Regions from separate parts of the Homo sapiens genome. Here region 2 is linked to region 1. Evidence: fine-mapped expression QTL. A gene starts in region 1. The other region holds a variant in brackets. All regions are shown on one strand. Distances are between the middles of the regions. Region 1 holds the start of LINC01993 (long intergenic non-protein coding RNA 1993). Region 2 holds the start of LOC105371910 (a long non-coding RNA gene).

Region 1 (5,367 bases):
ACACCTAGAGCCCAGACCAACTTCCTCCCAAACCATTGTCTGTTCTTTGGTCCTATTTGATTCCCAAAGAGAATTATTCACTAACCATTGTCTGAGCAAGGGGCCCATTCATTTCATTTCCCCCCAAAAATCATTGACTTTGCCTCAAAGAGGTGGTTTCCCACCACCTCTTCTCCCATGAGGAAGGGCATGGCAGGTTCTGGACCCCTCTGGATTACTGGGTAATCACGTCCGGGGAGTCCTGTGCTATGCAGTTACAGTAAATTTTGTGAGCCTTTTCTCCTATGAATCTGCCTTTTGTCCGCTGATTTTTCGGCGAAGCTTCAGAGGGCAAAGGGCAGCTTTCTCTTCCTAACCCAGAATCCGACCACTTCTCAGCCCTTCCACTGCCACCCCTGGCCGCAGCCCCTGGCATCTCCTGCCCGGGGAACTTGGTTCCCTCCGTGCTCTGCCTGTTTCCACCACAACCTCCCCAGGGCACCTGGGTTGATGTTGCAGGGCCCCCTCCCACTACATGGCCCCTGCACAGACCATACTCTTCCCAAGGCCCAGGGCTCCCTGTGCCTGGCTCCAGCCTCCTTATGGTTTCTGGAACATACACCGGTGTGTCCTCCTTGCTCATCCTGACTTGTCACCTGTATCTTTCTCTCCCTACTGGAGCCCTGCAAAGCAGGCATTTTCATCTGCTGGGATATCCCCAGCCCCTGGAACAGCCCAGGCTCATAATAGACACCGAGTTTGCAGAATAAGTGAATGAATGGGAGACTGAAGGAGTGAGCTTGCTTGTACACAACCACCTCTCAGAACACACATGCATCTGTCTGCACCGGTCTGTCATTTTGAATTCTGGGGCAGGGAGGAGTGCCATTGATTTGCTTCATTCATTCGCCTGGTGGTGTGTGTCCCTCCCTTTTGACTATAGCTTACCTGGCATGCACCTTCTTCCTCACTGCCCCAAGGCCTGACCTGGAGTCCGGCCTGCCATAGGCGCCCCTGCATTCCTGCTGATGACCAGAGGGCTTCAGTGGTCTTGCCTGGAGAGAGTGACCAGTTGTGGTTGGGTCTCATTTGCATGTGCTTTGCATAATGCTTTGCATAACCTCCTACAAGCCACATTGAGCAGGGAAGGTGGGGTGCAGAGAGGACTGGCCCTGGGGCCCCCTGAGAGCTGACCCCTGCAGCAGATGTTCTGGGGTTTGGGGCTCCTTGGGGACCAGCTCCACCTGGTGCCAGTCTCCCCAGGCCAGGTTAGGGGTGCAGATCTGGACACAGTGAGGGTGAGGGTACAGGCTTCCCTCGCCAGACGCGGCTTCTCCCTTCCTCTCCCTGGGAAAGGGGAGGCCTCACTGCAAGCCCCAGGAACCTGCCCCAAGGCCCTCCGAAGTTCAGGCCCTGCCTCCCTGCACTGAAGAGGCTGGGGTTGGGGGGCAAGTGTCACCCACGCCTCAGAGTGAGCCCTAGATCTGAGGAGAGACAAGATGGGGAGGAGGGGAAGGGGGTCAGCTCAGAGGGCAGCCCTGCCCACTCTGCCATGTCCCAGCTTTCAGACGTGGCTGAGAGGACATGAGATGCCCCGCTCCCCGGAGCGGGTCACAGAACTCGGGGTAAGTTTCTGGTCTGCCTACCTGGCAGATGCCCCTAGAGAGTGGCCTCCCCAACAGCACCGACCACCCCAGGGCAGGTGGGGAGCAGCGTCCCCCACCCCATGACCCCGGCCAGCCTGGCCACCCTGCTGGGCCACATGGTGCCACAGGTCAGCAGGGGTCTTCAGGCCATGTGAGGAAGGTGTCTGGGCTGGTGGCCAGGCTGGGTGGGAGGGGTGGGGGCAGGTGGAGCTGGGTGGGTGATTGGGTGACCTCGACCCCTCAGCAGGCTGCACCAACCCTGGCTGGAGCTGCCACTGGCCTCAGCTTCCCTTCTCAGCAACTGTGACCTCAAGCAGCTGCTGCACCTGTTGGGTGTGGGTGAGCCCGGCTCTTCTTTCCCTTCCAGGGGAGGAGTCAGCCCAGGAGTCAACTACGAGGTCGGGGAGGGGATTAAGGAGCTGAGAACAGGAGACAGCAGAGGGGACAGGCTGTCTTCAAGCACAGCTGGCACCTGGGGAAAGCCGCCTCCTCCCTCCCACTGCCCCCACCCCCGCTTGTTACTGGAAATGAGGAGAGCCTCCCAGGTCCCAGCAGAGCTGCTGCTGGTAAGTCCCTTCCCCAGCGGCCCCTCCACCCCTCACAGGCCCAGCTGTGCCAGCCCAGCCTGGGCCCTACTCCCGGCTCCTGCTTTAGGTGGTCTCCTGTGGCCTGAGGCCCTGGGGGTGGGCAGGGGTAGGCACCCAGGCCCAGAGGCTCTGCGCCTGTCTCCAGGCTTCCCTGCTGCCTGGGCTCTGTGGTGGGAGGCGGGGTTGCAGGTGAGGGGAGTCCTCCGTAATCAACCCCGGTTTATAGGAATTGGGGCCCCAGTGCCCAGACTCATGGGCCTCCAGGGGAGCAGGTGGGAGGCTCTGCCCAGCCCACCTCCCTCTGAGTATGGATCTGAGGTCACACACACCTGGCTGGAAGTGACTTATCCTGTGAACCTCAGCGTCCTTACCTGTAAAAGGTAACAAAATTCTCTCTTCCTCCAAGTGGCTGAGAAAGGTAGAAAAACAGAGTAAGAGCAGCTGGTCCCAGCCCCGTGAGCACCGGCCGGGACCCCTCGGGTGGGATCCCATCGTACCATCTCTGCCCATGATCCAAGGAGACCATTTCAGAGAGGCTGAACAACATGCCGGGCTCAGGGCACGGGGCAGGCTTTAGTTTTGCCACAGCCAGCCGGCTGGTGAGCAGGGGCGGGGCAGCCGTGGGCCTGGAGAGTGGGGGCGACTTCTTCCTACCCCCTCCCAGAAGGAGAAAGCCCACATTTTTAGGTACCACAGCAGCCCTTTTGGGCAACAGGCTTCCCCTTTTTTTTTTTTTTTGGAGACAGAGTCTTGCCCTGTCGCCCAGGCTGGAGTGCAGTGGTGTGATCTCGGCTGACTGCAACCTCCGCCTCCCAGGTTCAAGCAATTCTCCTGCCTCAGTCTCCCGAGTAGATGGGATTACGCCCACCACCATGCCCGGCTAATTTTTGTATTTTTAGTAGAGACGACAGGGTTCCACCATGTTGGCCAGACTGGTCTGGAACTCCTGACCTCAGATGATCCACCCACCTTGGCCTCCCAAAGTGCTGGGATTACAGGTGTGAGCCACTGTACCCGACCCTCTTTTTTTAAAAAAACCTTTTAAGTTCAGGGGTCCACGTGCAGGTTTGTTATATAGGTAAGCCCGTGACATTGGGGTTTGTTGTACAGATTATTTCAGCACGCAGGTACTAAGTCTAGTACGCATTAGTTATTTTTCCTGATCCTCTTCCTCCTCCCAGCCTCCACCCTCTGATAGGATCCAGGGTCGGCTGGTCTATTCTATGCAGATTCTTAGAAATATCAACTGAGACCGGGTGCGGTGGCTCATTCCTGTAATCCCAGCACTTTGGGAGGCCGAGGTGGGCGGATCACCTGAGGTCAGGAGTTTGAGACCAGCCTGGCCAACATGGCAAAACCCCGTCTCTACTAAAAATAACAAAATTAGCTGGGCATGGTGGCACCTGTAATCCCAGCTACTCAGGAGGCTGAGGCAGGAGAATTGCTTGAACCTGGGAGGCGGAGGTTGCAGTGAGCCGAGATCGCACCACTGCACTCCAGCCTGGGTGACAGAGCAAGACTCCATCTCAAAAAAAAAAAAAAAAAAAAAAAGATAAATACCCCTGATGGAATGCAAGGGGAAAGTTCCGCCCTTAGCCCATCAATCCTGGCAGGTGCTCCACCCTCCCACCTGGGGACCCAGGTGGCAACCGGCAGAGCGAGCTCAGAAACTCCACGTCAAGGTAGCAAAGCAGCATCCGCCTGGGTCCCCTAAGGGAGTAGGGCTGCATAGACCGGGTGCACCCGCCCTGGGCTGTTACAGAAGGAGAAATAAACTTCTCCACAAGCCACAGCTGCTATTGTTGGCTACCGTGCTGCAGCTGCTGAGCTGGTATGTGTCTTTGTGTGACTGGCTGATTTCACTTAGTGTGATGTCTCCAAGGTTCATCCACATGATAGCATAGGTCAGAATTTCCTTCCTTTGTTAAGGCTGAATAATATTCCACAGTATGGATAGACCATAGTTTGTTTATCCATTCATGTATCCATGGACACTAGGGTTGCTTCTATCTTTTGGCTATTGCAAATGAATAATGCTGCTATGAACGCGGGTGAACATATCTCTTTGAGTTCTGCAGCTGCTGAGCCTACCTGAACTAGCGCCAGTTACAAGAAACAGAAACTCACCTCAAACCAGCCGAAGTCAAATGGAGCCTGAAATGCAAACTAAAACCACAAGACGACGCCACTCAATACCTATTAGGACGGCTACTATTTTTTTTAAAAAAAAAACAACAGAAAATAACAAGTGTTGGTGAAGATGTGGAGAAATTGGAATCCTGTGCACTCAATTTTTTTTTTTGAGGTGGAGTCTCACTGTCATCCAGGCTGGAGTGCAGTGGCACTATCTCGGCCCACCACAACCTCCACCTCCTGGATTCAAGCGATTCTCGTGCCTCAGCCTCCTGAGTAGCTGGGATTACAGGCATGCTTCACCATGGCCCGACTAATTTTTATATTTTTAGTAGAGACGGGGTTTCACCATGTTGGCCAGGCCGGTCTCAAACTCCTGACCTCAAGTGATCCACCCGCCATGGCCTCCCAAAGTGCTGGGATTACAGGTGTGAGCCACAGCGCTTGGCCCTGTGCACTCAATTTTGGTGGGAATGGAAAATGGTACAATTGCTGTGGAAAACAGTGTGGTGAGATGCTCCAAAAATTAAACATAGAATTAGCGTATAACCCAGCACTTCCACTCCTGTATCTATCCCCAAAAGAATTAAAAGCAGAGACTCAGAGATATGTTCACCCACGTTCATAGCAGCATTATTCATTTGCAATAGCCAGAAGATAGAAGCAACCCTAGTATCCATGGATGCATGAATGGATAAACAAACTATGGTCTATCCATACGGTGGAATATTATTCAGCCTTAAAAAGGAAGGAAATTCTGACCTATGCTATCACGTGGATGCACCTTGAAGACATCACACTAAATGAAATCAGCCAGTCACACAAAGACACATACCGTGTGATTCCACTCATGTGAGATTGTTAGATTTATAGAGACAGAAAATAGCATGGTGGTTGCCAGGGGTTGGGGTCCAGGGGAATGGGGAGCTAGTGTTAATTAATGGGGACAGTTTCAGTTTGGGAAGATTAGAATGTTCAGGAGCTGGAGAGCAACTGTGCAACAGTGGTAATTACTTAATGCC
Region 2 (5,367 bases), 30 kb after region 1:
GCCTGGTGCCCTCTAGTGGACACTCGGAGCACTCCCGCGCTCCCGACGGGAGCCAGACAGCAGCATCTGAAGAGTTAATAGGGGAGGGGCCCAGTGCCCCCCAGCTGGGACGTCTGTCTAGATGCACAGAACAGAGGAAAGGCTCCAAGGCCCAGGCCTCGGGGGAGCAGACACAGGACTCAGGGTCTGGCTCCTTACTCCAGAGGAGCCCCCCACTCCGCCAAGAGGTGCCCCTGGACCCCTCAGCCCTCATCCTCTTCCTGACCCACAGAGGGCTGGAGTGCACTCCCACTCCCTCCCAGAGCTGCCCCACTGCACTCTGGACTGGCTGAGCTGGAGAGGATGATCACGCGGGGCCTCCAGAGTCCCTACCACCAGGTCTGCGAGCTCATTTGCCTGGAGAACTCACACAGCATCTCGGGGGTCCGGATCCTCCCCATCAACTACCTACGCCAGGTAGGCCCAGCCCCACCACTGTGTGCCCCCCACCAGCCTGATCCTGGCTTCCTGTGCCCCTGGCCCATCCTGGGGTTCAGTCCCCTCTGATTTATGCCATGGGCACCCATCAGCGGCCAGACCTGTCACAGGAAGGACACATGTGTGGTCCTAGGCTGAGACACAAAGGGAATTATTACCCCAGGTCAGGGCCCCTAGTCCCTGCACCAGCCCAACAGCAGAGATGCCCCCACCCCCAAGTCCCCAGAGCTGAGTCCCAGAGCAGCACCAGGACCTGCTGCCCTGGCGCAGAAACGTGTGCCCCATGAGGCTGCAGGAACAAGCTCGTGTGAGTGCCCTCCACCTGGTCCTTGCCACCCACGTGCGAGGTGAGGAGGCCGCAGTGTCTGAGCTCTGCTGTTTACCAGACACTAGTTAGGCAGCAGCCTAACTCTCCAAGCCTTGCGTTCCTTGCCTGTGAAATGGGAGCAGCGGCGTCTCCCTCGAGTTGTTGTGCAGCCTAAATGAGGTGACACACATTTACCCTTGGCCCACGGTCGTTTGGCCCATGCTCAGTGTGCGACAAAGCTGGGTTAAATGTGCACCCCCAGATCCTCCCAGAGCCCAGCATGGAGGCTTAGGCAGCACAGCCTGACTGCTTGGGTCCCAGATCACCAGAGCCAGTCACCAGCCAGGTCTCCTGATCCCTCCTGATTCCTCAGGCAGCTAAGCCCAGGACCCTCCTCCCTCTATGCCTCCCTCAGGCCTGGCCCCTCTGACTCTGCCTGCACCTCACCCCCAGGTGCACCTCCTGGCCCAGACCTATGGGGCCTGGGTCCACCTGGACAGGGCCCAGCTGATGAACGTGGTGCTGGCCCTGCATGTCCCGCCCACCTACATTGTGGAGCACTGTGACTCTGTGTCTTTCTGCCTCTCCAAGGTGGGAAAGCCCTGGGCTGGCCTCCCACAGACAGGTGGGGTGGGGCGCCCCAGCAGGAGGCAGGGTTGGATTCCTGAGCTCCATCCCTGGCAGCTGGCCCCAGGTTCCCCTTTAACACCTCTGCAGATGGGGCTACGCATCTGTCCCCACCCTGGCCCAAGGACAGGGATGTGAGCTGGCAGGAGTCTCTCCTCTCCACCTCCCAGGGCCTGGGCGCCCCAGTGGGGTCCCTGGCTGGGAGGCCCAAGGACTTCATTGAAGAAGCCTGGCGCCTCCAAAAAGCCCTGGGTGGAAGCATGCACCAGGTGGGGATGCTGGCTGCGGTGGCCCTGGTGGGACTGGTTGACACAAAGCAGGCACTGTGGCAAGACCATGGGAACGCCCAGAGATTCACCCAAGGTGCCTGGACAGGACGCCCCACCCTCGCTTCCCTGTGCTTCCTCTGACTTGGCCTGAGCTGTGCCGTCGGGGGTCCCCCAGCAGGCCTGCAGGCTTCTGGATCCTGGGACTCAGGGTGGCCATTGAGTCACTAGGGCGGGACCCAGGGCACCAGCTGCTTCAGCAGACCCTACTCAGCGCAGAGTCCAGCCTGGGGAAGCCCTCGGTGGACGGCCAGGATTGTGATGCTCTGCAGAGTCTGGCAGAGCCTCTAACCTGGGTCTTCCATCTGCTCACTGAGTCCTCCAACAATCCCATGATGTCCCTACTTCACAATGAGGAAACAGAGGCCCAGAGAGGTCAATAGGTTTGTCTGAGATCACATAGCTAAACGCAGCAGAGCCCAGTCTGTGTGACTGCAAAGGCCAAGTCAGGACACAGGGCCCTTCCTTCTCCTACCGTGACCGAACTGCCCCCTGCCTCCCGGGTGACCTTGCTGGCAATGGGGTCAGGGTCAGGGCCTGGGGTCACCTCTGCTCACCTCAGGACCTGGCCCAGGACTCCAGGAGCTGGTGTTGTCCGTCTGCTCAGTTGATCCCACCTTCGTGGAGACGAACATGGTGGTGGTGAGCATGGCTGGGTTGCGGGCCGTGAGTGCTGATGAGCTGGCCCACACTGGCCACGTGGCGTGCGTGCCACTGTTCCTATGGACAGAGCAGTCCGTGCTTCCGTGTGGCACCGCGACGTCTCGGTGTAGGACACTGAACTGGTGCTGAGGAAGTGGGAGTTTGTGCTGAGGCCGTTGGAGTCCTGAGGACGGAGTGACCGGGACCCTGTGCCCGGGCTGGGGTGGAAGCAGGGAGTGGAGGTGTTCCCAGCAAGCAGGCAGCAGAGGAGGTGTTACCTGCTCCTGGGGCTCTTTGGTCCCCTTCACCCCCACAACACTCAGGGTTAGGACCTCCCCCATGCTTGTCAGCACACACTGAATTCCTCCAGTGTCTGGGACAGGGTGTAGGGACAGGAAGGACACCCTTCCAGCTCCCGTCACCAGAGCTCGGGAGGCAGCGGGGCAGGCCTTCGCTCTAGGTCAGAGAGGAGCCCTTT[C/G]TTCAGGGCCACGTGGCCAGTTACAGCTTCCTGAGTTCAGGAAGGGAAACGTCAGAAGGAAGCAGAAAGGGACATGGGAACTTGATGGTCAGGGCTTTAACTGCCGTGGTGAGGGATTTCCATTTTATCTTGTGGTCCTCTAATACGTATTTTCCTTTTTAGAAAATAAATTACTCAGGGCCGGGCATGGTGGCTCACGCCTGTAATCCCAGCACTTTGGGAGGCCGAGGTGGGTGGATCACTTGAGGTCAGGAGTTCGAGACCAGCCTGGCCAACATGGTGAAACCCCATCTCTACTAAAAATACAAAAATTAGCCAGGTGTGGTGGTGCGTACCCGTAGTCCCAGCTACTCGGGAGGCAGAGGTGAGAGAATCGCTTGAACTGGGGAGGTGGGGGTTGCAGTGAGCCGAGATTACGCCACTGCACTCCGGCCTGGGTAACAGAGCCAGACTCCGTCTCAAAAAAAAAAAAAAGGAAAAGAAATTACTCTGCTTAACAAAATAATATGTCTGTATTGTAGATGATGTGGGAGTAAATCTTACTTTTAGCAACTCTTAGGGTAGTTCAGGCAGACTCAGTCAAAAAAAAAAAAATGAAGCCAGGCGTGGTGGGGTGTGCATCTGTGGTCCCAGCTACGTGGGAGCCTGGGGTAGGAGGATCATTTAAGTCCAGGAGGTGGAGTCTGCAGTGAGCCGAGATCACACCACTGCATTCCAGCCTGGGCGACAGAGGGAGACCCTGTCTCAACAAATAAACAAACAAACAATCTGATAGTACTGAAGAGCCTGCAAGGCAGTCATGAATTGTGAGGTCAAGATCTGGGAGAAGAGGGAACCTAGAGAGGTGAGCCTGGCATTTGGGACACTTTTCCTCGACGCGTCTGCTCGGGAGCTGAGGAACTGAGCAGAACTTTTCACAGGCACACAGGGCTGAGGGCAGAAGCTGAAGTTCAAGGCCTGCTGAAAGACCCTGGTAAGAGTCCCTCAAGCAAGACTCTGTCTCAAAAAACAAACAAACAAACAAAAAAACCCTCAAGCTTTGGGTTGAGTCCCTGAGGGGCCACCCACTAGGAGTAAGGGCAATTGGAAGTAGACTGACCATCGTGAGAAGTGAAGCCAGCTGTGAAGCACTGTGATCCCTGATTACGGCAATCTGGGGTGGTGGGTGCCTCTGGCCTAGCTGCCTGCCAGAAGTAAAGATCCGTCTTCTCTGGAGGAAGGTGACGTCTCCCAGAGCCTCCAATTTCCTCTACAGTTATTCATGTGGGATGCCCCCACTCAATCAGAAATAACCAGGTATAGAATGGGACAAGATGTGATTGAAAATGAGAAAAAAATGGACAAAAGAGGCCAGGCGCAGTGGCTCATGCCTCTAATCCCAGCACTTTGGGAGGCAGAGGCGGGCAGATCACTTGAGGTCAGGAGTTTGAGACCAGCCTGGCCAACATGGTGAAACCCCATCTCTACTAAAAATCCAAAAAAAAATTTAGCTGGTCATAGTGGTGTGGGCCTGTAATCCCAGCTATTCGGGAGGCTGAGGCAAGCGAATCATTTGAACCCAGGAGGTGGAGGTTGCAGTGAGCCAAGATCACACTGTTGTACTCCAGCCTGTGTGACACAGCAAGACTCTGTCTCCAAAAAAAAAAAAAAAGAAACAGACCCTTAGGTGACCCAGATAACAAAGTGGCTTGTGCCTGTAGTCCCAGCTACCCAGGAGGCTGAGGTGGGAGGATCACTTGAGCCCAGGAGTTCAAGGCTGCAGTGAACCGTGATCATGCCACTGCACTCCAACCTGGGTGACAGAGCGAGACCCATCTCTAAAAAAATAAATAGCTTGAGTGTGGTGGCTCATGCCTACAATCCCAGCACTTTGGGAGGCCGAGGTGGGTGGATCACTTGAGATCAGGAGTTCGAGACCAGCCTAGCAAACATGGTGAAACTCCATCTCTACTAAAAATACAAAAATTAGCTGGGCATGGTGGCACACACCTGTAATCCCAGCTACTCTGGAGGCTGAGGCAGGAGAATCGCTTGAACCCGGGAGGCAGAGGTTGCAGTTAGCCAAGATTGCGCCACTGCACTCCAGCCTGGGTGACGGTGAGACTCCGTCTCAAAATAAATAAATAAATTAATTAATTAAATTAAATATTCTAGGCTGGGTGTGGTGGCTCATGCTTGTAATCCCAGCATTTTGGGAGTCCGAGGCAGGCAGATTGCTTGAACCCAGGAGTTTGAAACCAGCCTGGGCAACATGGTAAAACCCTGTTTCTACTTAAAAGTACAAAAATTAGCCAGATGTGGCACCTGTAGACCCAGCTACATGGGGGACTGAGGTGGGAGGATTGCTTGAGCCTCCCAGGAGGTGGAGGTTGCAGTGAGCTAAGATTGTGCCACTGCATTCCAGCCTGGGTGACACAGAGAGACCCCCATCTCAAAAAAATAAAAAATAAAATATTCAAGGAATTATAAGTCAAGATAAAAAAAATTTGGCAGGAATCTTGGAACTATAA

Evidence for each region. PIP is the estimated chance that this variant, and not a neighbour inherited with it, causes the effect.
Region 2: its variant is fine-mapped to the expression of LINC01993 in lung (GTEx, PIP above 0.99). The same link has a PIP of 0.9 or more in thyroid and visceral fat.

What each region holds. Positions count from the first base shown.
Region 1 is chr17:78,275,268-78,280,634 of GRCh38, reverse strand. LINC01993 (long intergenic non-protein coding RNA 1993) reads left to right here and starts at 2,143. Exons shown (of 7, transcript NR_073178.1): 1 at 2,143-2,191. RefSeq lists enhancers at 1,610-2,443, 2,444-3,277, 3,839-3,888, 4,119-4,388.
Region 2 is chr17:78,245,693-78,251,059 of GRCh38, reverse strand. LOC105371910 (a long non-coding RNA gene) reads right to left here and starts at 2,744. Exons shown (of 2, transcript NR_164160.1): 1 at 2,295-2,744. It also overlaps the pseudogene THA1P. RefSeq lists enhancers at 121-170, 352-997 and a silencer at 4,385-4,585. The variant C/G (reference allele first, on the strand shown) is at 2,858.